2 separate regions of the Homo sapiens genome follow, and region 2 is linked to region 1. The links come from fine-mapping of genetic effects on gene expression. A gene starts in region 1. The other region holds a variant in brackets. All regions are shown on one strand. Distances are between the middles of the regions. Region 1 holds the start of SH3KBP1 (SH3 domain containing kinase binding protein 1). Region 2 overlaps SH3KBP1 (SH3 domain containing kinase binding protein 1).

The links. PIP is the estimated chance that this variant, and not a neighbour inherited with it, causes the effect. A credible set is the group of variants that fine-mapping cannot tell apart.
Region 2: its variant is the best candidate, but not a certain one, in a credible set for the expression of SH3KBP1 in tibial artery (GTEx, PIP 0.69).

Annotation. Positions count from the first base shown.
Region 1 is chrX:19,883,137-19,898,886 of GRCh38, forward strand. SH3KBP1 (SH3 domain containing kinase binding protein 1) reads right to left here and starts at 4,464. Exons shown (of 18, transcript NM_031892.3): 1 at 4,171-4,464. The coding sequence starts at 4,174. RefSeq lists silencers at 3,866-4,005, 4,486-4,555, 4,616-4,915 and an enhancer at 7,081-7,130.
Region 2 is chrX:19,669,030-19,677,029 of GRCh38, forward strand. All of the region lies in intron 6 of SH3KBP1 (SH3 domain containing kinase binding protein 1), which reads right to left. Among named protein-coding and RNA genes, the nearest start is that of MAP3K15, 160 kb to the left of the region's middle. The variant A/C (reference allele first, on the strand shown) is at 3,249.

The sequences.
Region 1 (15,750 bases):
ACTCATGAAAATGCAGATTGCTGGGCCCCATCCCCAGCATTCCTGATTCAGGAGGTCTGCTGGAATGAAGCCAGAGAATCTGTATCTCTAACGGGTTGCAGGGGAGGCTGTGCTACTGGCCTGGGGCCACCCTCTGAGAAGCGCTGCATTAGAGGCTCTCCTTCTCTAACACTAAGTATTTGGGCTATTTTCCTGTTCTGCGTCTTTCCCATTAGCACTGACTTCATGGTTCTCAGCAGCTTGCTCTTTCTCTGTCACTCTCTCTTCCCTTAGTATAGCATTTCAGATGTCCATCGTGCTTAGCATTGAACAACAGTCCAGGCTATACCTGGTTGATATGAAGTAGCCACAGATATACCTAGAAAGCCATTTTCCTCCCCCACTGCCTCCGATTCCCTGCCCCTGCCTGTCACATAGTTAACTCGGAGAAAGAGCAGTTCTTCTGGCTGGGAGCTGGCCAGGCACCCACAGCTGGGCCAGGGTGTCCTGTTGAACAGAAACAATTCCCTAGAAAACCAACATCAGACAAGGCCACTCTGCGACCAGGATGGAATAAGATGAAAACAAGACCACACATTAATCATGTCTGAACACGGACAAAACATGCACCTTGTCCAAACCACACACATGACCAAATATCCCCCAATCCTGGATAATGCAAATGACTGCTGCTGCTTTACCAACCATAGCTGTGGCCTGCCTCCAATGTTCCCTGCTCCTAGAGAACATTTGTTAAAATACCCAATCACAAATTCCCCCTGGTAGCATCCAATCCAAAGTAATGCCCAGCTTCCTTAAACACGCCCTCAAGCCACCTGACACAGGTGCAAGCCCTCTAAGTCATCCTTCCTTGTACCATCTTACTGAGATGCCCCGCGGTTCCCACGGTGCTCGTTTTCAGTCTCTGCCACAAGAACCAGGTGTGGCTGGAGGGCAGTGATGACTCATACTCAACCAGATTTCTGCTCAAACACAATCTCCTCTAAGACACTGTCCTGGGCACTCTCCAGGCTAAGTCAGATTGGCCTTCTCCACTCATCTTTCATGCGCTCTACTATGGCTTTCAGCTACATACTGCCATGAGAATTGCATTCAAGTCAGCCTTCATTAGACTGAGAAGCCCAAAGTGTCATGTCTCTGTTCTGCACCTGTTCTTAGCACAGTGCCTATGCAAAGAAGATCAACAAACATTGGATGGATGGATGGATGGATAGATGAACAAATACTGCTGTATGCAAAATACATTAAAAACAACTACAAACTCAAGAGTTGATGAGAGAATGTCAGTAACGCCAAAAGAACTGAAGTAGTAAGAGAAGAAACCACCAAGGTTTGTGTAACCAGAGCCACAGCAAGCTTTTGCTCGTGCCAAGATGGATAGAAGTGGGTAAAGCTTATGTACAATTAAGGTGGGAGCCTTTTCTTCCATTTCTAACTCAAGACATTTGTACAGACCAACACATTATGTTCATTTTAGCTTTAGTTTAGCATACAGCAGTCTACCGCCAATACAATAAATACATTGCCAAAGGCTATCCAAACTTTGTTGTTACTCTGGAATTAAACAGAAATCATTTGTGGGCTTGCAAACCCTTCACTACTCACAGATTTGGGTCACCATAATATCTGTTTAATTGTAATTATAAGAGGCTTTCTCTGTGTCTGGCACTGTAGGCATGCATCTCCTAGCAAGTTCAGAGGGCACATTCTGATGGGCTTTTATAAGAGGCCATGTTGCAACTAACCAGCTTCACTTCAGGGTTAGGGATTTGGTTCTTTTCTGTTATTTTTCAGAAAACGAAATATAAGATACAGTTTTACTATGTTATCCATCAAGAGAAAACTCATTATCAGGCCAGGTAAGAATATAAGTGTATCAGAATCAGGCACAGTGGTGTGAGCGTGCAGTCCCAGCTACTTGGGAAGATCTGGAGTCCAGGAGTTCAAATCCATCCTGGGCAACACAGCGAGACCCTCCCTCTTAAAAAAGAATAAAATTGCATCAAATTGATAAACTGGATAAATCTGAAAACCAGAGACTTGGGGGAAAGGGTGGGCCTCTGTCTGCATACACACAACCTCAGCCCATTAGATCACTCCATTGGAAGACATACAGAATGAACCGTTAAATAACTGCACTTCATTACAAATATACTGCTGGAGATGCTTTCAAAAGAGCAGGTGATTTTTAGCCACAAACTACTATAAGCACCTTAAATCCCACTATAAACATGAATTAAATTACATTCGTTTTGACATTATCACCTCTAAGTATTAACTCCTGAAATAAATGAAAATCGATGCCCCCTCCCCCTGCAATAATGGTTGCAGTAAAGATTAAGTACAAAAGGACTAAAAACTACAGGAGCACTCTATTTTTCGTAGGAAGTTCTGAAGAATGAAAACAGTTCAAATCTGAAAAATAGGTCTGATTCTTCTTAAATGAGACTCAGTCCCCTTCTCATTGAGATACAGAAAGCACAGTCTGGCCATGGGAGAAGACATTTGGATTAACTTCTTTTTGTGCATAACCCTCTCGGTGACCCACCCAAAATGAAAGGTGATCAAAACAGAATTTTTGGTTACCTCGGGAGAAATTAACCCATTACTAAAGTGGCCTGTAAGGTTTAAAGTATATACTTCTGCCAATGAACTAAATCATCTTATGGGCCAAAGCAAAACAAGAGTGAGCTAAGTGTTCTGTCCCCAGCAGAGGAGGAGGATTTCATGCCCCTCATTCATTCATTCAACAAATATTTAGGTCCTGCTCTGTGCCACACACCAAAAGTGCTGAGCAAACTATGCAACACTGTGCTGTCCCTATGGTCACAGAGCTTACAGTAGAGGAGATAACTGTTACGCACAAATATGTAATACTGCTACGAAAAAAAAAGGTGTTGTATGAGAAAATGGAACAGGAACCAATTTAGACTACAGGTGGGAGAGAAGGGCACTGTGAAAAAAGTGACATTTAAGCCAAGGGGACAACAGATCACCACTACTTAGAAAAGGAAAACCTTTTTTGGCAAATGACCACAAATGGGATTTTAACTTTGCCTGTCAACAACGGACTGGGTTAAACCTCCTCTTTTCCAATCCTTCAGGCTTTCTGAACATCCTGACTAGTGTACTGGAATCCTATTACCTGAACACAGAAAGGTCTCACTTTATTATGATTTATTATTATCTGCAGCCTTCCTATGCCTGGCCTAGGAACATCCAAAAATAATCTGCCAGAGGCTGAAAAACAGAAGCTGGCTGTCAGCAAGAACATTACCTGGGTAGACCAAACATTTAATAGCCCAAGTAATCATAAGTGCCTTGCCAATAAAGTGGCAGCTTCTCTGGGCAGCAAGGTGGTTCCAATGCTCCGGGGTCTAAATCAAATGGGACCCAGGGGGTTCAAAGGTTAGTTGGCTACTTCGAACTGATGTTTACTCAGTAAATCAAAGACCGGATCACCATTTCCAGGTCCCAGACCCTGAAGACTTAAAGGACAGTATGGGAAGTGGCCTTTTAGCATCACGGAGCAGAGAGCTCGCCAGGCTGGAGGAAGGCAGCAGCGAAAGGGTCGGGGCCGGGAGGAAGGGGGGCGCAAGGAGAGGAGCGTCAGGTGCTCTGGACCCCGGGACTGCGAGCCAGACCAGGAACTGGGGCGTTTCCCGCCCCACCCCCCAACCCCTGTCAACCCCCAGCAAAGGCAACCCAGCCCCCTCCAAGACCCCGAGGTTCCAGCTTCCCCCGAGACAGGACCAGGAAGACACCAGCAGCCCCGCGCAGGGCCGGAGCCCACCAGGTCCGGGTGCCCGTGTCCGCAGCGCAGAGGAGGGCGCGCTCGGGTGCAAAAATGGCCAAGACAAAACTCTCCCCGCCCACCCGAAAAACCAACCACACCCCCTGCATCCCTCAGCCCGAGCCGCCCGGGGCCAGCCCCCGTGATCGTCTGCTCAGGCCCCCGCGGGTTCCCGTCGGCGCCGCGCGCGGGCTCGGCGGGCACACGGGCGCAAGTGGGAGTGAATGGGGGTGCGCGAGGCAGGCGAGGGCGCCCACCGCGGTGTCCCCCGTCCGGACCCTGCCCCCGGGGCGCCCTCCCGGGCTCCGCGGTTCTGGGACTGGCGCGCCGCCCTCAAGGCTGAAGTGGACGCCCGGACGCGGGCGGCCCCCACTCACCCATTGGCGTCGAGCCGGGCCGGGCCGCCGAGGCAGCGTGAAAGTTGGCGGAGGCGGGCGTGGGGGTTGGGGCGCCGGGATCGGGGCGCTGGGATCCAGGCGCGAGGGTCCGGACGCGGCGGCGGCTGGGCCGGCTTCTTCCTCAGTGGCGGCGGCGGCGGCTCAGCGCCGCCCGCTGCTGCCTCTGCTGCTGCTGCCGCTGCTGCCCCGGGGCGACTCCTGCTGCTGCTGTTGCATCGCGGCCCAATGCGCCCGGCTGCGCCGGGTTTCCTGCTCCCCGCGAGTGGAAATTGCGAAAAAAAAAAAAAAAAAAAAAAAAAAAAAAAAAAAAAAAAAAAAAAAAACAGCGCCGCCCAGCCCAGCGCCCGGCAGCCGCGGCCGCGCCGCCCGCTCTCCCCTCCTCCTCAGCGCTGCCGCGAGGCTCCTGCAGCTCCGCCTGCCGGGGACGCGCGGCCGCCGGGCGGGGGCGGGGCCGGAGAGGGGCGGGGCCGGGGCCGGGGCCGCGTCGGGGCAGGCGCCGGGGGCGTCCCTGCGGCTGAGGGGCTTGGGCGCCCTCCTCACCGCCCGCGCCAGAGGCACCCCTCTCCGCGCGGCTGCCACCCACCCGCAGCGGCTGGGCTGACGCCCCGGGAAGTGCCGCGAGACTCCTCGAGACCGGAGGAGAGGGGCTTCTTGGGGGAGGGGCGTGGGAGTGCAGGGGCACGTGGAGAAGGAGGAGAAGGGGGCTGAGCGGGAGGGGGCGACAAGAGGTGGAGGACGGGCTGGGGATGGAGACCAGGGCAGGCCCGGGGCCAAACGCCTGACCAGGGTGATGGCAGGTGGCCCTGGGGCATCGAGGCAATCTGGAATGAGTTTTCCCGGGGGGCTGTTGGAGGGGAAGGAAAAGGGTCCCTTGGAAGGGAGAGAAACGCGGCGTCCCTTCGGTGGGGCGTGGGAACGCAGGCAGGCCAGGTGCGAGTTCCGCACAGAGGAGGCGGTGGCACTGACGTGGGGAAAAACGGGCGAAGGACGCAGCGGGGCCGAGGGGACGCATCGCCTCGCTGGGACCCGCCTAAGCCCCGCCCCAGTGCCTGGGCCAGGTGCGGTTCGGGTGTTCAGGAATGTTCCCGAGCTCTGACGTTCCCAGGAATCCGCTGAGATGAGGGCTGGCTCCCTCCCTAGCAGGCATTATTGTGCCTTACTGACTCCCAGACCTGGACGGCCGACCCTTGAGTGGGCGCTAAAATGTTAACAGGGAATCCGTGGGCATTCGTGGGCAATTCAGAAGCTCCGTTTTGGGTCCATTCACCACCACACCTTTCGCCATAGATACTCTGCCTGCCACCACATTCCTCTACCGGCCCGTTATTTCCTTTTCCCTTTCCACCATCTGGTGGTAGGAAGCGATAGTGAACTACATGGGAGACATTTAGGCAAAGAGCACGTAAGACAATAGAGAAATTACATCAGTGGCCCCTGGAAATGGAGGAGGCTGAGGGCTAGTGGACTCAAAAGGGACAAATGAAAGCCGACCCCCTACCCAAGAGAGGGGCTGTCTCCATACCTCACCTGTGTTGGCGGGGCAACTCTTGTAAATTGGTTACCGTCCTGGGATTTCTGTAGAAAATTGTTCTTATAACTGTTTCATGAGTTTTTCAAAAAACCTCAAAGTCAGGGTCTTACAAACAAGAGATCAGTAGCATCATCTTTCTAAATACCGTTCATGTGTGTCAAACCGATCGAAATAGGAGACTAATCAAGGGACAAGAGGCCCATCCACACAGAGGCTGCAATTGAAGTCCTAGTGTCATCAATATCAGACTCCTAAAAAAGGGATCAGAGAACACGGAGATTAAGAATGTGAAGGCCGGGCGCGGTGGCTCACGCCTGTAATCCCAGCACTTTGGGAGGCCGAGGCGGGCGGATCACGAGGTCAGGAGATCGAGACCATCCTGGCTAACATGGTGAAACCCGGTCTCTACTAAAAAATACAAAAAATTAGCTGGGTGTTGTGACGGGCGCCTGTAGTCCCAGCTACTCCGGAGGCTGAGGCAAGAGAATGGTGTGAACCCGGGAGGTGGAGCTTGCAGTGAGCCAAGATCGTGCCACTGCACTCCAGACTGGGCGACAGAGCGAGACTCCGTCTCAGAAAAAAAGAAAAGAAAAGAATGTGAAGTGGGCCAGGCACGGTGGCTCACGCCTGTAAACCCAGCACCTTGAGAGGCCGAGGTGGGCGGATCACCTGAGGTCAGGAGTTCAAGACCAGGCTGACCAACATGGCGAGCCCCTCTCTCTACTAAAAATACAAAAATTAGCCAGGCGTGGTGGTGCATGCCTTAGTCCTAACTCCGTGGGAGGCTGAGGCACAAGAATTGTTTGAACCTGGGAGGTGGAGGTTGCAGTGAGCCTAGATGGCGCCACTATACTCCAGCCTGGACGACAGAGCGAAAAACTCCGTCTCAAAAAAAAAAAAAAAAAAAAAGAATGTGAAATGTTGAAGGCAGGGATGATGAATACTCAAATATTCCTCCTCCAGGCACCCTGGTGCCTCACTCATTACATGTCTTGTTATATCATGTTCTAATCAGGGCAATCAAGCCTTCTGATACCATCTTAGAGTTGACAAACACTGAAACTCACAGAGCCTGGATAAACCCTCTGCTACTGGGACATTTTTTTTCCCCCAACCCCAGAAGAACTGGTATGGGGGTCTGCTCAATTCCAGAGGTGGTTCTCTTTGGTAAGGCCGTATCAGTGGGTCATCCTAACCCTCTCTCAAAGAGCCTCAGACCCCTGAAAGTGATGGGGTACATTTCAACATGGCAACAGTTGTGCTGGCCTTGCAGTGGACTGTTATCTGGAGTGCTGAAGATTCTTGGCTGGTTGCCCAGTGCATTCTCACAATGATGAGTCAAAAGTCTTTGAACATTGTTGATGATACCTTCCCATAGCTAAACTTACCCAGGCATCACAGAGGCCACTACACCTAAACCAGCAGATGGGGTGCGGGAACCCTGTCGGCTCAAAGAAAAAGAAAAAATCAGCAGTTTGTCTTATGTCCTGCTTGGTCTCTCTGTCCTATGTGGAGAAGACAGTCTTCTCATGGAATTTTATTTCCAACTTCACACAGGTGAACACAGATCACTTGAAATTTGGGGGGTTTGTTTCGTTTTGTTGTCTTTTTTTTTTTTTTTTCTGAGACAGGGTCTCACGGTCACTCAGGCTGGAGGGTAGTGGCGTGATCATGGCTCACTGCAGCCTCAACCTCCTGGGCTCAAGTGATCCTCCCACCTCAGCCTCCCAAATAGCTGGGACTACAGGCACGTGCCATCTCACCCGGCTAATTTTTGTAGTTTTTGTAGAGATGAGGTCTCACTATGTTGCCCACGCTGGTCTTAAACTCCTGGGCTCAAATGATCCTCCCCCGCCTCGGTGTCCCAAAGTGTTGGGATTACAGGCTGAGCCACTGCGCCCGACTTGCTTGAAGTTTTGAGTCTTGTTTATTCTCTGGTCTATTTCAAGGCATATCTTTTCCTTCTTGGACAGGAATGCGGTGTCGCTCCTCCTTGATCTGCTTCCTGCGTGGTCAAATTTGCGTTACCACAAAAGAAAGACTGATGGCAAGACAATATTTTTGAAAATCCCTGAGCTATGTCCTAATTTTATTTTTTATTTTTTTGTTTTTGAGATGGACTTTCACTCTTGTTGCCCAGGCTGGAGTGCAATGGTGGGATCTTGGCTCACTGCAACCTCCACCTCCCGGGTTTAAGCGATTCTCCTGCCTCAGACTCCCGCGTATCTGGGATTACAGGCATGCGCTACCACGCCCAGCTAATTTTGTATTTTTAGTAGAGATGGGGTTTCACCTTGTTGGCCAGGCTGGTCTTGAACTCCTGACCTCAGGTGATCCACCCGCCTTGGCCTCCCAAAGTGCTGGGATTACAGACGTGAGCCATCGCACCGGGACATGTGCCCTAATTTTAATGCCTTAACTAAACAAAGTTGTGGTGATTCTATCCAAAACACTATAGTTTATTTTTCATTTTAAGTTTCTCTGACTTATGAAAATGAACCTTCCATTTTTTCACTTATTGTTTAGTTCTTCTGAATTGTTCCTATTGTCCTTTCATTTTTCCTTGGAGAAACTTTTGCTGACCAGCACAAGGGAAGTTAATATCAAGATTCAGATCCAGCTGCTGACATGAATAGATGCATAATTTCTCATCCTGCCTCCCTCTTACAAGAGTATCTTTTAACAAAATGGTTATTGCAATATTTCAAATGATGTAAATTCATCTCATGAATATTTCTAGAGAAATAGGATTTTATTTAATACATCTTTGTCCCACTGAACTCCCATTTCCACCAGAGGAGATTATGCAGTTTGGAAATAGAAAGTATCGGAGCTGTTACACTTAAAATGATATCGTATGACTTAAAAGGCACCGCTATGTTGCTCAGTAGTAGTAACATATTTTTGGATAGAAACTGAAGGTGTGGCCGGCCATGGTGGCTCATGCCTGTAATCTCAGCACTTTGGGAGGCCGACGTGGGTAGATCACTTGAACCCAGGAGTTTCAGACCAGCCTGGACAACATAGTGAGATCCTGTCTCTACAAAAAATACAAAAATTAGTCGGATGAGGTGGCGCACACCTGTAGTCCCAGCTACTCAGAAGGTTGAAATGGGAGGATCACTTGAGCCTGGGAGGTTGAGGCTGCAGTGAGCCGTGACTGCACCACTGCATTCCAGCCTGGGTGACAGAGCAAGACCCTGTCTCAAAAAAAAAGAAAAAATTGAAGGTGGGTGAGCTTCTGTCTTTCATACTTGCTATCTCTGAGTACTCGGACTTAACATCTGTAATTTGCCTTTAATGAACAATACTTTGATAACCTTTAATATTGTCTTTACATTAATATAAATTACGTGCTGAGTGCTGTACAAAAGACACTCATTGTATAGTGCTTCTGATGAACTTTATGGAGAAATGTAAAAATCTCACAGTGCCAGAAAGTAAAGATGTACTCAACAAAGGTGACAGGGCACAGCAGAAGGGCACAGGAGCCAACCCCAAAGGGCTCCCAAAGGCCAAAGCTGGAGCAATTCAAGCAACAAAATAATTAATGATTGTATTGGAAGAAAATTAATATCTTTGAGTCTATAGAAATACAACTAAATAACTGACTAGGGGAAAATATCAAGGAGAAGGGACAAGTCTTCCTTACAGAGGAATTCCAATTAAAGTGTAGGAGAAATGAGAGAAAGGGAAAAGCATCATTAGAACATCACAGTAACTGCTAATATAGGCATGATCCAACTACCGTTCACAAATGAGTGGGTGAAACTTTAAGGAGAAACAGAATATTTGCATAGCCTCAAAGTATTTTCCCTGAAATAAATATGTCTTCATATTTAAAATGGGGGAAATAGTAACTTTACTTGGAGAACTCTGGCAAACAGCACTTTTTTTTTTCTTTCTTTCTCTTTTATTATACTTTAAGTTGTGGGATACATGTGCAAAATGTGCAGGTTTGTTACATAGGTATACACGTGCCATGGTGGTTTGCTGCACCCATCAACCCGTCATCTATATTAGGTATTTCTCCTAAGGCTATCCCTCCCCTAGCGCCCCACTACCCAAGAGGCCCTGGTGTGTGATGTTCCCCTCCCTGTGTCCATGTGTTCTCATTGTTCAGCTCCCACTTGTGAGTGAGAACATGCAATGTTTGGTTTTCTGTTCCTATGTTAGTTTGCTGAGAATGATGGTTTCCAGCTTCATCCATGTCCCTGCAAAGACATGAACTCATCCTTTTTATGGCTGCATAGTATTCCATGGTGTATATGTGCCACATTTTCTTTATTCTATCATTGATGGGCATTTGGGTTGGTTCCAAGTCTCTGCTATTGTGAATAGTGCTTCTTTTGAGGAGTGTCTGTTCACTTTAAGCAAGCAGTCATGGCTCTGTGCTGATGGCTTTTTTTTTTTCTTTTTTTAGACAGGGTCTGACTCTGTCGCCCAAGCTGGAGTGAAATGATGTGATCTCCGCTCACTGTAACCTCTGCCTCCTGAGCTCAAGCTCAAGAGATTCATGTACCTCAGGTGTGCACCACCACACCCAGCTGATTTTTGTATTTTTAATAGAGATGGGGTTTTGCCATGTTGACCAGGCTGGTCTCGAACCCCTAGCTGAAGTGATCCACTTGCCTCAGCCTCCCAAAGTGCTGGGATTACAGGTGTGAGCCTGATGGTTTTGAGGCAGGCTTTTCCATTCCTCCTTTGCTTCATGCACACCAGGTTAAAGGTAACTGATGTCTAGATCAAAAGCCACAGAAATATTAATGACAAATGTCTTGCTCTATTATGTTTACCTGGCTTGATAGCCTCTCTTAGAATGACCCACTCCCTTCCCTCTTTTTCCTTTTCAGTAAATCTTTTTCAGCAAATCTAACAGGACTGGGTTCACCTGCTCTATAAAGATGAACAAACGAATCAAATCAGAGAAGTAGATCACTTATGAAACAGCTAAACCATGACCTTCTTTACAAGGTTTGTGGGAACGCCTCGCTTTGTAAACAAAGGAAAACACAAAGGAAGCAACTAGAAGGTGAGACGTGCATGTCCACAATGCTACAAAAATAGGATGTCCTCGTTTAAAAATCCAAAGAATGCCTGAGTAATCAACTCCCAAGCTGACTGGTCACACAAGCTTGTATCCAAAGTGCGCAAAAAGAGCCCTGGTGCACAGATGAACTTGCCAAGAACATTTTTCCATCCTTTTCCACAGCACTGCTTTGTCTAAGAAAATAGTAAATTGGGAGAATGGTCCCAGGAGATTAACAAAAAACATGGTTTCTACTGTTTTCTACCCATCCTGCTGGTTTCCTCCCCCACCAAAATCACAAGGGGTCATGTGTAAGGAACTACATTTTCACAATTAAAAGGCAAATCAAATGATAATCAAAAAAGTTCCCAAAGCACCAGACATTAAGATCATATGTGTGATATATATATTGTAATAAATGTTAACATTAAGCCAGGCATGGTGGCTCACGCCTGGAATCTCAGCACTTTGGGAGGCCTACCCAGGCAGATCACTTGAGGCCAGGAGTTCAAGACCAGCCTGGCCAACATGGTGAAACCCCGTCTTTACTAAAAATATGAAAATTAGCCGGATGTGGTGGTGCACGCACGTTAATTCCAGCTGCTGGGGAGGCTGAGGCAGAAGACTCGTTTGAACCCGGGAGGTACAGGTTGCAGTGAGCCGAGATTGTGCCACTGCACTCCAACCTGGGCAACAGAGCAAGACTCCGTCTAAATAAATAAATGTTAACATTAAATAGAACAATGGCATTTAACATAGGAATAAACTGTATCAACAGGCCAATTTTTAAAAATGGAAACTGATAAATTACTATGGGAGGCTTTTGATCTCATCGGTAATGAAAATTTAAAAGTAGGAATTGACTTGCAAACATAGTTTCTCTTTTTGTCCCAGAACCTTCGGGAGAAGCTAAGCTCAGGGGCTCCTTCACAGGCTGGGTTCCTTTGGAGCTCAGCCTCCAGGCTGCACAGACATTGGCCCGTGTTCCTGACAGAGGGAAGAACAAGTGAGGATGTGCAGAGTCTGCAGAACAGATGGCATTTTCAAGGGGTCTCCTGTGGAAGGGGCAGGAGTGTAGTGAAATGTCTGATTCTAAATGGTTTCTATGTCAGGGCCAGATCAAACAAGACCCTGCAGGCAATGGGTAGGAGCACAGGTTTCTTTTTTCTTTTCTTTTCTTTTCTTTTTTTTTTTTTTTTTGAGACAGAGTCTCACTCTGTTGTCCAGGCTGGAGTGAAGTGGCACAATCTCGGTTCACTGCAACCTCTGCCTCCTGGGTTGAAGCAATTCTCCTGCCTCAACCTCCCGAGTAGCTGGGATTACAGGTGTGCACCACCACACCTGGCTAATTTTCGTATTTTTAGTAGAGATGGGGTTTCACCATGTTGGCCAAGTTGGTCTCAAACTCCTGGCCTCAAGTGATCCACACACCTCGGCCTCACAAATGCTGGGATTACCAGTATGAGCCGCCGTGCCTGGCCTGGAGCACAGATTTCTAAGCAGGCTGTTTTTAGGGAGGTAACTGGTGAGCTCTGTGGAGAAAGGACTGGAGGAAGAGCTTGCAGGTGGGAGGCCAGCAACAGGCCAGAGGTGGTAAAGGCAAGAAATATGATGGCAATGATACTAACAAAGAGGAGAGGTTACATTCTAGAGCCATTTTTGAAATACATTTGACAGGCTCTGATGAGGCAGTGGATTTGACGAGAGGATAGGGAGCAAAGATGGAGGATTCAATAGAGATATTTTGTTAGTTGGCTTGGAAGTTGGATAGATAATGGAGTTTCAACTAAGTGGAGAAATCCACTAAGTGGAGAAGGAAGTTTTTGTTGGGGTAGGGATGTGGAGGAGATAATGAATTCAAATTTGAATGTTATTAAGAGCGAATACAGCCAGGCTCGGTAGCTCATGCCTGTAATCTCAACACTTTGGGAGGGCAAGGTGGGTGGATCGCTTGAGTCCAGGAATTCAAGACCAGCCTGGGCAACACAGCGAAACCCTGTCTCTACAAAAACAAAAACAAAAAAATGCAAAAATTAGCCAGGCATGCTGGCGTGTGCCTGTAGTCCCAGCTACATGGGAGGCTGAGGTGGGAGGATCACTTGAGCCTGGGAGTTTGAGGCTGCAGTGAGCCAAGATTGCACCACTGCACTCCAGCCTGGGTGACCGAGCAAGACTTTGTCTCAAAAAAAAAAAAAAAAATGAATACAAAAGGGAATGAAGTACTGATTTATGCCACAACATGGTTGACCCTTGAAAATATGATGCTAAGTGACAGAAGCCAGTTGTCGAAAGCCACCTATTATATGGTTCCATGTATATGAGATTTCTGGAACAGGCAAATCCATAGAGACAGAAAGTAGGCTAGTGGTTGTCAGGGGCTGGGGGAATTGAGGAGTGACAGCTAATGGGTACAGGGTTTCATTTTGCGGTGACAAAACGTTCTAAAATTGATTGTGTTGATGGTTCCACAACTCTGTGAATATACTAAAAACTGTTGAATTATACATTTTAAAATGGGTGAATTGCCAGGCACAGTGGCTCACACCTATAATCCTAGCACTTTGGGAGGCCGAGACGGGTGGATTGCCTGAGGTCAGGAGTTTGAGACCAGTCTGGCCAACATGGTGAAACCCTGTCTCTACCAAAAATACAAAAATTAGCTGGGCATGGTGGTGTGCGCCTGTAGTCCCAGCTACTCGGGAGGCTGAGGCAGAAGAATCACTTGAACCCAGGAGGCAGAGGTTGCAGCAAGCCGAGATTGCACCACTGCACTCCAGCCAGGCAAAAGAGCGAGACTCCGTCTCAAAAAAAAAAAAAAAAAAAGTTAATTATGTGATATGCAAATTATATCTCAATAAAAGCTGTTAAAGATTTTAAAAGAGTGATCATGGTTACAGCATTTCAGTATGGGAAGATGCAAATGTTCTGGAGATGGATGGTTGTGATGGTCGCACAACAATGTGAATGTATTTAATGCCACTGAACTGTACATTAATAAATGGTTAAAATGGCAAATTTTGTTATGTATATTTTAGTACCAAAAGAGAATGAATACATATGTGATTGGTGGGTTATATGGGGCTGGGTGGGGACGATATTCCCTGTGTTTTAACTCCTCCAATAATACCCCCACACTGCTTCCCAAACAGGAAATCAGAATTACAATAACCACCACCCCATCACCTCGGGGTTCAGAGAAACCAAGACCAGTGGCCTGAGCTGACGGTGAAACGCCACAGCCATCCCCTAGATTGTGAAGGCCCCAAAGCAGACAGCCAACCTCAGATGCATCCTCAAGCCCGAGGCTATGGGACTTAATTGAAAAGTCTCTGAACCAGGCGGTCACTTAATAAGAGATGGCACAACCCTTTTCTAGCACGACTTCTTATTAAATAGAGTCAGTCAAATCAAGTTCCTCTTCTCAAAAATAATTACAGACCAGCCAGAGGCAAAAGTGGGAAGTAAGTCAAGTTCATCTTCTTTGTTTTGCTTGCCAGCCCTGGGTTAAGGATTCTATTCCCCAGCTGAAGTTTTCTTTTCTGGACCACAGAAGCTCTCAAAGTGTGGTCCCCAGCCCAGCAGCAGCAGCATGTGGGAACCTGTTAGAGATGCACGCTGGGGACCCCGCCCCAGGCCTTCCGGGTCAGGAACTCTGGGGCTGGGACCCAGTAACCTGTGTTTTGATCAGCAGCTCAAGTGTGAGAATCCCCGCTGTACCTCAACTCCTCAGAGCCAAGGTGAACGCTCTGTCATCTGATGAACTGCTTGGTCCTTGGCAATGAAAACGGGCTCAAGGGAGCTACCAGTGAGGCATAGCCCTGAACTGGTAAAACTGACTTGATGTTTTGCGATATATATTCATATCATTATCATTAGAAAAGTAATCTCTGCTCAGTATTTTAAAAAATAAAACAGGCCAGGCACAGTGGCTCATGCCTGCAATCCAAGCACTTTGGGAGACTGAGGCAGGAGGATTGCTTAAGCCTAGGAGTTTAAGACCAGCCAGGACAACATAGTGAGATCCCATCTCTACAAAAATAAAATAATAAAAAATCAGCCAAGCATGGTGGCACGCACCTGCAGTCCCAGCTACTCGGGAGGCTGAGGTGGGAGGACTGCTTGCGCCTAGGAGGTCGAGGCTGCAGTGAACCATGATCACATCACTGTCCTCCAGCTTGAGTGACAGAACAAGACCCTGTCCCAAAAATAAACTAAACTAAAATAAAATATTAAGGATACAGTGTATAAGGTGAAAATCTTCCATCATCTCACAATTACCAATTACTGCAGAGATAATTGATAATCACTGTTAACTCTTGAAGGAATATTCTTCCAGACATTTTTTAAAGTGTGTAATGATACTAAGATATATGATGATTTCCACCTATTATCACTGTAATTTTTTGGAGCTAGTAATTCCTCTTTAGTGCTCTAATGATGGAAATTGAGAACACTGAAGAGGGGGTACTATTTTCCCTGGAGGACTCTCAAATCACCTTTTTCTTTTTTCCTAAATTTGAATGCATTTCATAATCTTCTTCTGGGAAGAAATTAGAATTCCTGAAAAAATGCTAAAGCAATTCTCTGATACTCTTTAATGAGATTAAGCCCTTGTCGGGGAGACTGCTCCCTCCACCCCCTGCCCCCGTCTCAGCTGACCTAAGGTCAGAAGTCTAGTGATGTTTAGCCAGACATTCTTTCACCTTGTGTCCAGTCTGACAATGATCATCTAACCATTCACTTCCCAGAAAATGTCCCAACCAAGGGGGAATAAGAGGGAATCTTGGGGCTGGGTGCGGTAGCTCATGCCTGTAACCTCAGCACTTTGGGAGGCCAAGGCGGGTAGATCCCCTGAGGTCAGGGGTTCAAGACCAACCTGGCCAACACGGCGAATCCCTGTATCTACTAAAAATACAAAAAAACTAGCCAGGCATGGTGGTGGGCACCTGTAATCCCAGCTACTTGGGAGGCTGAGGCAGGAGAATTGCTTGAACCCGGG
Region 2 (8,000 bases), 220 kb before region 1:
TCAGCTCACTGCAGCCTCAACCTCCCGGGCTCAGGCGATCCTCCCACCTCAGCCTCCCGAGTAGCTGGGGACTACAGGTGTGCATGCCACCACACCCAGCTAATTTTTGTATTTTTCGTAGAGTTGGGGTTTTGCCATGTTGCCGAGGCTAGTCTCAAACTCCTGACCTCAAGTGATCCAACTGCCTCAGCCTCCCAAAGTGCTGGGATTACAAGCATTAGCCACTGCACTCAGCTGAGGATGATTTCTATTTATTTCTTTGTATTCTTCAACTTTGAATAATAATAATAATAATAATTATTATTATTATTACAAAGAGCTCTTGTAATGAGAGAAGTAACAGAGCTACCTCCATTTTGAGAAACAAACAAGCAAAGGGTTCAGGGAGCACTTACCAGTGCAACAAGTAGCTCAGACATCACAGGACCAAGGCAAAACCTGTCAGGCCCCCCAGGGGCTACCATTCCTCTCCCATCTCCAGGCCCTAGCTGCTGAGACTTTCCCACGTTTTTCACACCTTACAATCAATCATGCTTTCACTCATTTCCCCAAGGAAGAAGATTCACCATCTTTATTTTGCATATAAATACCTCATTCAGATTTCTACTCATCAGAACTCAGAACAAAGACATCCAGCATAAGATCAGCAAACATAAGCTATCTTTCCCTAGGAAAATCCTCTCAAGCCATTGCCGATGAATATATTTTTATCCTAGCCAACCCCTAACGGCACTCTCCTCATATATCTGCCTCTGTCCTCCTTTCTAGGCAAGCAACAGATGCCATTTAAAAACCTTTCAAGAAGTTCCCCTACTCTTAAAATGATATGTTAAAACAATGTGTTTCCTTTTGGCCACGCTATTTTTTTTTTTTTGTAATTTTGAAAATAGTATAAGTTAAAGCCAACAGAAAAAGACATAAAGGGACATATTTTACAGACCTCATCAATTCTCCCCTTAAAATTTTTTTTTCAATGAGAGACAGGGATATGGAAGACATATGACACACTGTAAGCCTTACTTATCCTGTGGTTTATTTAGGGAATTTTGTGTTTGGAAAATGACAGACTTCTGCTTTTAGGTAGACAAATATGAACAACTCACAGAGAAAAACAAGACCACTTATTTCTAGCAAACTTTTATAAAATCAAAATAATTTAGTGTCTTAATTTTTCTCCATACATGAGTACATACCTATAAATGCCCCGCACTACAAAACTAGCCAAATATCTTTACCCCATCATAAAAAAAGCAGTTCAATAGCACCCAGAAGTCACTACTCACAGCTGCTCCACTCACAAAGAAAACTCCAAATGTCGGTGACCCTCAAGAGTGAAACGCCCCACAGCTGGCTTGCTCTGCATGGACATACCCTTCTCTCTAAGCTAACCTGAAAAGCAAGCTGGATTTGTTTACTGCACAAACATCTGTAATTGCTAAACATCTCTGTGACATGGTGTAACAGTTACCGCTTGTGCAAACTGCCCATCTAAATTTCTCTCTGCAATATGAGCACATGAAAACCCAAGACACAGAGAGATTGGAAACATCTGTAAAAATTAATGGCCAAATTGACCAAAGTGGGAGGGATTAAAACGGCTAAATAGCTCCAGAGTGACATTCAGCTTTAGCAAATAATCCGTATACTTGATAGGTTCCTCCTCAGCTTATCCATAGCTCCCCTCTGTGGGATCCTAGCTGGCACACACATTGTTTCAACCCACTAATGCAAACCCATTACCCAGTCTTGCTACAAAATGTTATATACAGATAAGATACAGGTTAACTGGATTTATTACAACTCTAAAAGCAAAAAAAAAAAAAAAGAAATACCTCTTCTCCCATGATGCAGCCAGCCTCCTCTCTTCAGTTTGAAAAGGTCCCAGAACTCCCCTGGAATCCTCCCACTTCCTTCCAACAGCACGGAGCCTGAGGACCCAGCCTAACCCTGAGTCATACTTGGGACCAAATGAGGAATGGGGAGAACAAAGCTCGCATTTGTTTATGGTTCAGGAAGCCAGGGCCAATTCATGGCTTGGGTGGCTTCGAGAGAAGTCCTCCTCCCTCGCCTATGTTGCTGCTGCAATCTGGGCTCCCTCCTGGGGCCCCCAGGTGTGACCATTCGGACAAGGAACACACTGAGGGAGTGTTTATTTGGCAAGACCTAGTGATCACGTCTGTTTAAAAATGCCAGAGAAGAAATAAAAAGCCCACTATCTTTCAACAGATCACATGGCTAGAGAGTGAGGGATATCTAGAATATAGTCTGTATATGACATATCAATCATGAACATGCCTGTATTTTAAATGCAATTAGTTGCACTACACAAAAATTACTCATAAACACACACACACACACACACACACATACACACACACACACACAGAAGAAGGAAAAACAGCCGTGGCTTTATGGAAATACTCCCCCTAGGAAAAATACAGCAACATTGCTGCCATGTCATCAGGAGCATCCTAACAGGTTGAAATGAAATATTTAAATCACAATTTTGTTCTTTCCCCCAAAAGAGATACCATTTTAATCACCACTTCAATGAATCTAGAGCGCAGTGGTTAAGTGTTCAAAACTCTGGAGCCGGAGTGTTTGAGATCAAAATCCCAGTTGAGCTACTTCCTGGCTTTGTGATCCTGAACAACTTATTCAACCTTTGTTCATCTCAGTTTCCTTATCTATAAAATGGGGATAATGGCACCAACCTACAGGGCTGTCTGGAAAATTAAATAATATATGTAAAGTACTTACAAAAGTGCTTGGCACACAGTAAATATCATATTAGCCACAATTACAAGTTCAGGACAATTTCACAAATCAGGATGCCAAGTAAACAGTATCCTTATCTTACCACATTTCTCATATGCTTAGACTTTGATGACCTGTTTCAGTTAACTATGGTTAATATTTAAATTTTTAATTAAACTAATTTAAAAACCATTTGCTTACTATTTATTAACTGCCTGCACTGTATCTAACTCTGTAAGGGGCTTTAAATAAGATGCTGTCCCAGTCCTCAAGAAATTTACAATCTCCTTGGGTAAATAAGACATAAATCTGTTTACTTATCACACACACACACAAATGTAGGTGATGTCACTAGGTAGTAAATGACAAATATAATACAAGTGCTACAGAATTAGCATTTGGAATTCAGAGAACAGATAAAAAAAATTCCCTTATCAAAACCCAACTAGGACGGAGGAGAATAAACAAATCTCCTGTGTAGAAGGATTCCA[A/C]ATCATTTCTTTAGATACTCCTCCCTCAAGGAGGTAGAATGAAACTCCCCACTCTTTAAGTGGGAGGGGCACAGAGTACCCTTTTTCCAAAGAGTCAAGTATGGAAAGAGGGAAAAAACCAGAACTTTCGAGCGGAGAAACCTGACTAACACCTACGTCAGCCAAGGTGACTAAGGTTAACATCTATAGCGATAAGTATGGAATTAATATGATGTAATGAGAGCACTTCACCTCTGTGGCCTTCCTCCCAAAAACCCACGACTCCAATCTACTCATGAGAATAACTTCAGACAAATGCTTATTTAAGGACATTCTACAAAACTGAAAATTGCCATGGTCATCAAAAATAAAGAAAGTCTGGGAAACTGTTAAAGCCTAACAAGATGAGAAAACTAAATGTGGTATTCTGGATGGGATCCTGCAACAGAAAAAGGACACTGGATAAAAACTGAGGACATCTGAATAAAGCATGGATGTTAGTCAATAATGATAATATGGGCCAGGCATGGTGGCTCACGCCTGTAATCCTAGCACTTTGGGAGGCCAAGGTGTGCGGATTACTTGAGGTCAGGAGTTCAAGACCAGCCTGGCCAACATGGTGAAACCTCGTCTCTACTAAAAATACAAAAATTAGCCAGGCCTGGTGGCAGGTGCCTGTAATCCCAGCTACTCAGGAGGCTGAGGCAGAAGAATTGCTTGAATCGGGTGGGGGTGGGGGGCGGAGGTTGCAGTGAGCCGAGATGGCGCCACTGCACTCCAGCCTGGGCAACAGAGCAAGATTCTGTCTCAAAAAAAAAAAAAAAAAAAAAGATAATATGAAACGTACCACGTTAATGCAAGACGTTAACAAGAGAGGAAGCCGGGTGTGAGGTATGTGGGAACTCTATTATCTTCACAACTTTTCCATAAATCTAAAACTACTCTAAAATTAAAAGTTGATTAAAAAACTAATTAGAAAGATAAACCTGCTGAATGCAAAGGTATATATAAATAAACACATATCTGTGATTTATAGCTATACATGTTTATGCCCATGTGTATATCTATGTAAATCTATTTAACAAGGCCCTCTCAACTTCAAATTTAAAAATTGTCTCTATCTTCTTAGCCTATCTATTAATGAAGATAGTAGAATGCTGACTCCTGGCTTTTTCATTCCCAAAATACACAAAAGAATTTTCTTTGAAAGGAAACTTGGCTCTTTTGTCAGTGTTGCTGCCAACCCAGGCAACGGCGATCCAGCTTAAAGAGTGTGCATGAGGTGGGCCCATCTGCCCCTTTCCAAGAGCTACTAGAAGTTCCTGGTGCCTGGCCAATTAGTCATCGACCATGGAGCCCCGGGGCTGGCAAGTCTCCCAGCTACTTCCTCTCCCATCTCCAGTCCACATTCCTCAGCACCTCCCCAGTTATCTCTCTAAAGTATAAATCTGATCATGCTGCTGCCCAACTGAACTCCTTCACCAACTTGCCCACCCACCCAGAAGAAGGGCAGCTTGTGAGTGGGCTGGCAGAGCCCTGCAGGAAGAGGCACCACCTCCCCTTCAGCTGCCCACTTCCTCCACTACCACCACCACAGCCCCTGCACCCCAGCCCAACCCACCTCTTCCTTCAACATACTCATGCTCACTCCTTGTCCACATGCACACTGCTAGTACCATGAATTCCCAACGTCTTTTAACACCTTGCTCAAATACCACATTCCTTAAAAAGAGACCAAGGATATCCCATCCCTTCCTTCTTGACCTGGAGGAAAGTTAGTAGTTTCTTCCTTTCTATTCTCATTGATGCTTTGGACATGCGTCTGCTAGTCTTTCCCCTTACATTATAATGACTTTTATACATACCCCCTTTCTCTCCAATGTAGGGACAATCCAAAGCATTAAATGAGAAACCTGTATATGACAGCTGATCCAAGGTGTGACTTAGGGTAGGAGGTGTTAACTCCATTCCGATGAACCACACCAGATCTGCTCCACCCCAAATAAATAACCTGTCAGGTTAAAAAAAAACCGCACTTACTATGCAAATACAACATCTAGACATGCCATTTAGCCAATCCCTTTCCAAATGGATTGCCACCCCTTTGTTCATTTACATACAAATCCCAGAGATACCACTGCTAATCCATAAAAGGCATTCAATAAAGCTTCACACTGCTGATCCATAAAAGGCATTCAATAAAGCTTCAGTGAATGAATGAATGAGTGAATTAATGAACAAATGGAAGAGTGAATCTTAGCTAGACCACAAGCAGATCCCAACCAGAATTGGATTAGCACAAAACAGTATCTTCATTCATCCAGTCCACAAATATTTACTGAGGGCCAACTATCATTTGACAACTATTTTCATAAACTGTAAATGGTGACTAACACAGACAAGGTCCCAAATTATGGCACTTACTTTCTAGTGGCTGACATTTAAGACTTGGTGATATGAAACAAACAGCTAACACAGATATAGCAAAATTCAATTGTACTTCTTGCAGTTTGAAATTTGCCATAATAAAAAATTAAAGAGGCCAGGCATGGTGGCTCATGCCTGTAATCCCAGCACTTTGGAAGGCTGAGGGAGGTGGATCACCGGAGGTCAGGAGTTCAAGACCAGCCTGGCCAACATGGTGAAACCCCGTCTCTACTAAAAATACAAAAATCAGCCGGGCGTGGTGGCCCACACCTATAATCCCAGCTACTCGGGAGGCTGAGGCAGAAGAATTGCTTGAACCCGGGAGGCAGAGGTTGCAGTGAGCCAAGATCATGCCACTGCACTCCAGCCTGGGTGACAGAGCAAGACCCTGCCTCAAATAAATAAATAAATAAATAAATAAATAAATAGAAATAACCCTGGAAAATGTACTGTCATTTATAGGTACTCTTTCTACTCTAATAACAATAAGGACAACAATAATAATAACTAACGTTAATCAAGTGATTACTATGTGCCAGGCACTTCTCTAACCATTACATGTTACTTAATCCTCACAACAACCCTCTGGGGTAGATTCTCTTGTTACTCTAATTTTACAGATGAGGAATCAAAAGCACTGAGTGGTTAAGTAACTTGTCCCAGGAAGAGGCAGAGTTGAAGTCTGAACCTGGGCTATCTGTCCTCCATGTTTAATAACCACTATACTTTTTTTTTTTTTTTTCCAGAGTCTCGCTCTGTCGCCCAGGCTGGAGTACAGTGGCGCAATCTCAGCTCATTGCAACCTCCACCTCCCGGGTTCAAGCGATTCTCCTGCCTCAGGCTTCCAAGTAGCTGGGACTACAGGCGCATGCTACCATGCCCAGCTAATTTTTTGAATTTTTAGTAGAGACTGGGTTTCACAGTGTTAGCCAGGATGGTCTCCATTTCCTGAACTCATGATCCACCTGCCTTGGCTGGGATTATAGGCGTGAGCCACCACACCCGGCCAACCACTATACTCTTAACACAATTTGAAAACCTTCTGGGAATATGATTCTTGGTGACAATCTGGCTGCAACTAAATATTTCTTAGAAAATACGCTAGGCTGAGTGTTTTAGAAAGTTCACATCAAACATATATAAAACAGAAAGCAGCACCCAACATGACAAAGAATAATCCTGTAATACTGGTTCACTGTTTCTGTTTCCCTTTCCCTACCAACTCCCCTCCTCCTTCCTTACTTTTTCCAGATCAGGAAACAAAACTGAGACACTCTGAGGAGAGAGAAGCCAAAGTCTGAAAATCCCAAACACTTCATTCAACCCAGGCAACCAGTGGGCATCTTAATACCATCTGCTCATTAAAAACCACAGGTTTTCCAACAACTCAAGAGACACAATCTTATTTTTCAACCAAAACGAGGGACAGCCAATACTCTAGGTCTCAGATAATCACAACAAGGTTTTGACCCTTGTGTTTAATTAGTCAAAGAGTATATATCTCATTAGCTTCTGGAGTTCTCTAGAGCTTATTTCTAGTCTTCAAAGGATTAGGACATAGATCTCTCATTTTTAAGGAACTAAGATCATCACCTTATTGACATGTTTTAATTTTATATGATTATGCAGCTTAATAAATTTTTACTAGAATGGATAAAAAGACTACCTGGGTGGGGGCTGGGTGGGAGGCGGGGATGGTTAATGCGTACATAAAAAATAGAAAGAATGAATAAGACCTACTGTTTGGTAGCACAACAGGATTACTATAGTCAATAATAATTGCACATTTTAAAATAACTTAAAGAGTATAATTTTATTGTTTATAACTCAACGGATAAATGCTTGAGGGGATGGATACCCCATTCTCCATGATGTGCTTATTTCACAGTGCATGCCTGTATCAAAACATCTCATGTGCCACATAAATACACCTATTATGTACCCACAAAAATTAAATACAAAAAAAAAGACTACCTGAGATACGTATGAAAATACTTAAATTCTCTTACTGTAATTTGGCTAATTAAAAACTTGATTAGTCACTCTCATTTATACACAATTTTAATTCTAATTATCTGTCCCAAGTAAAAGCTACAATGTGGATACCATAAAGGCATTAATTTGGGTGACTATAATTCTATAAATGAGATTCAAGATGACAAGAGTTGAAAAAGAGGCTGTTACAAACACAACGCCTTGTAGAAAGTGTAGACAGAATTCAAGAGAGAGATGTCAGAAGTCACTAACGGAAATCAGCTAAGACAGGAAGACCATGGGAAAGAAGCTTCTTGAAAGATTTCTCCGCAGGGAATCCAGTAAACAACCAACCTGGCAAACCATTCAGTT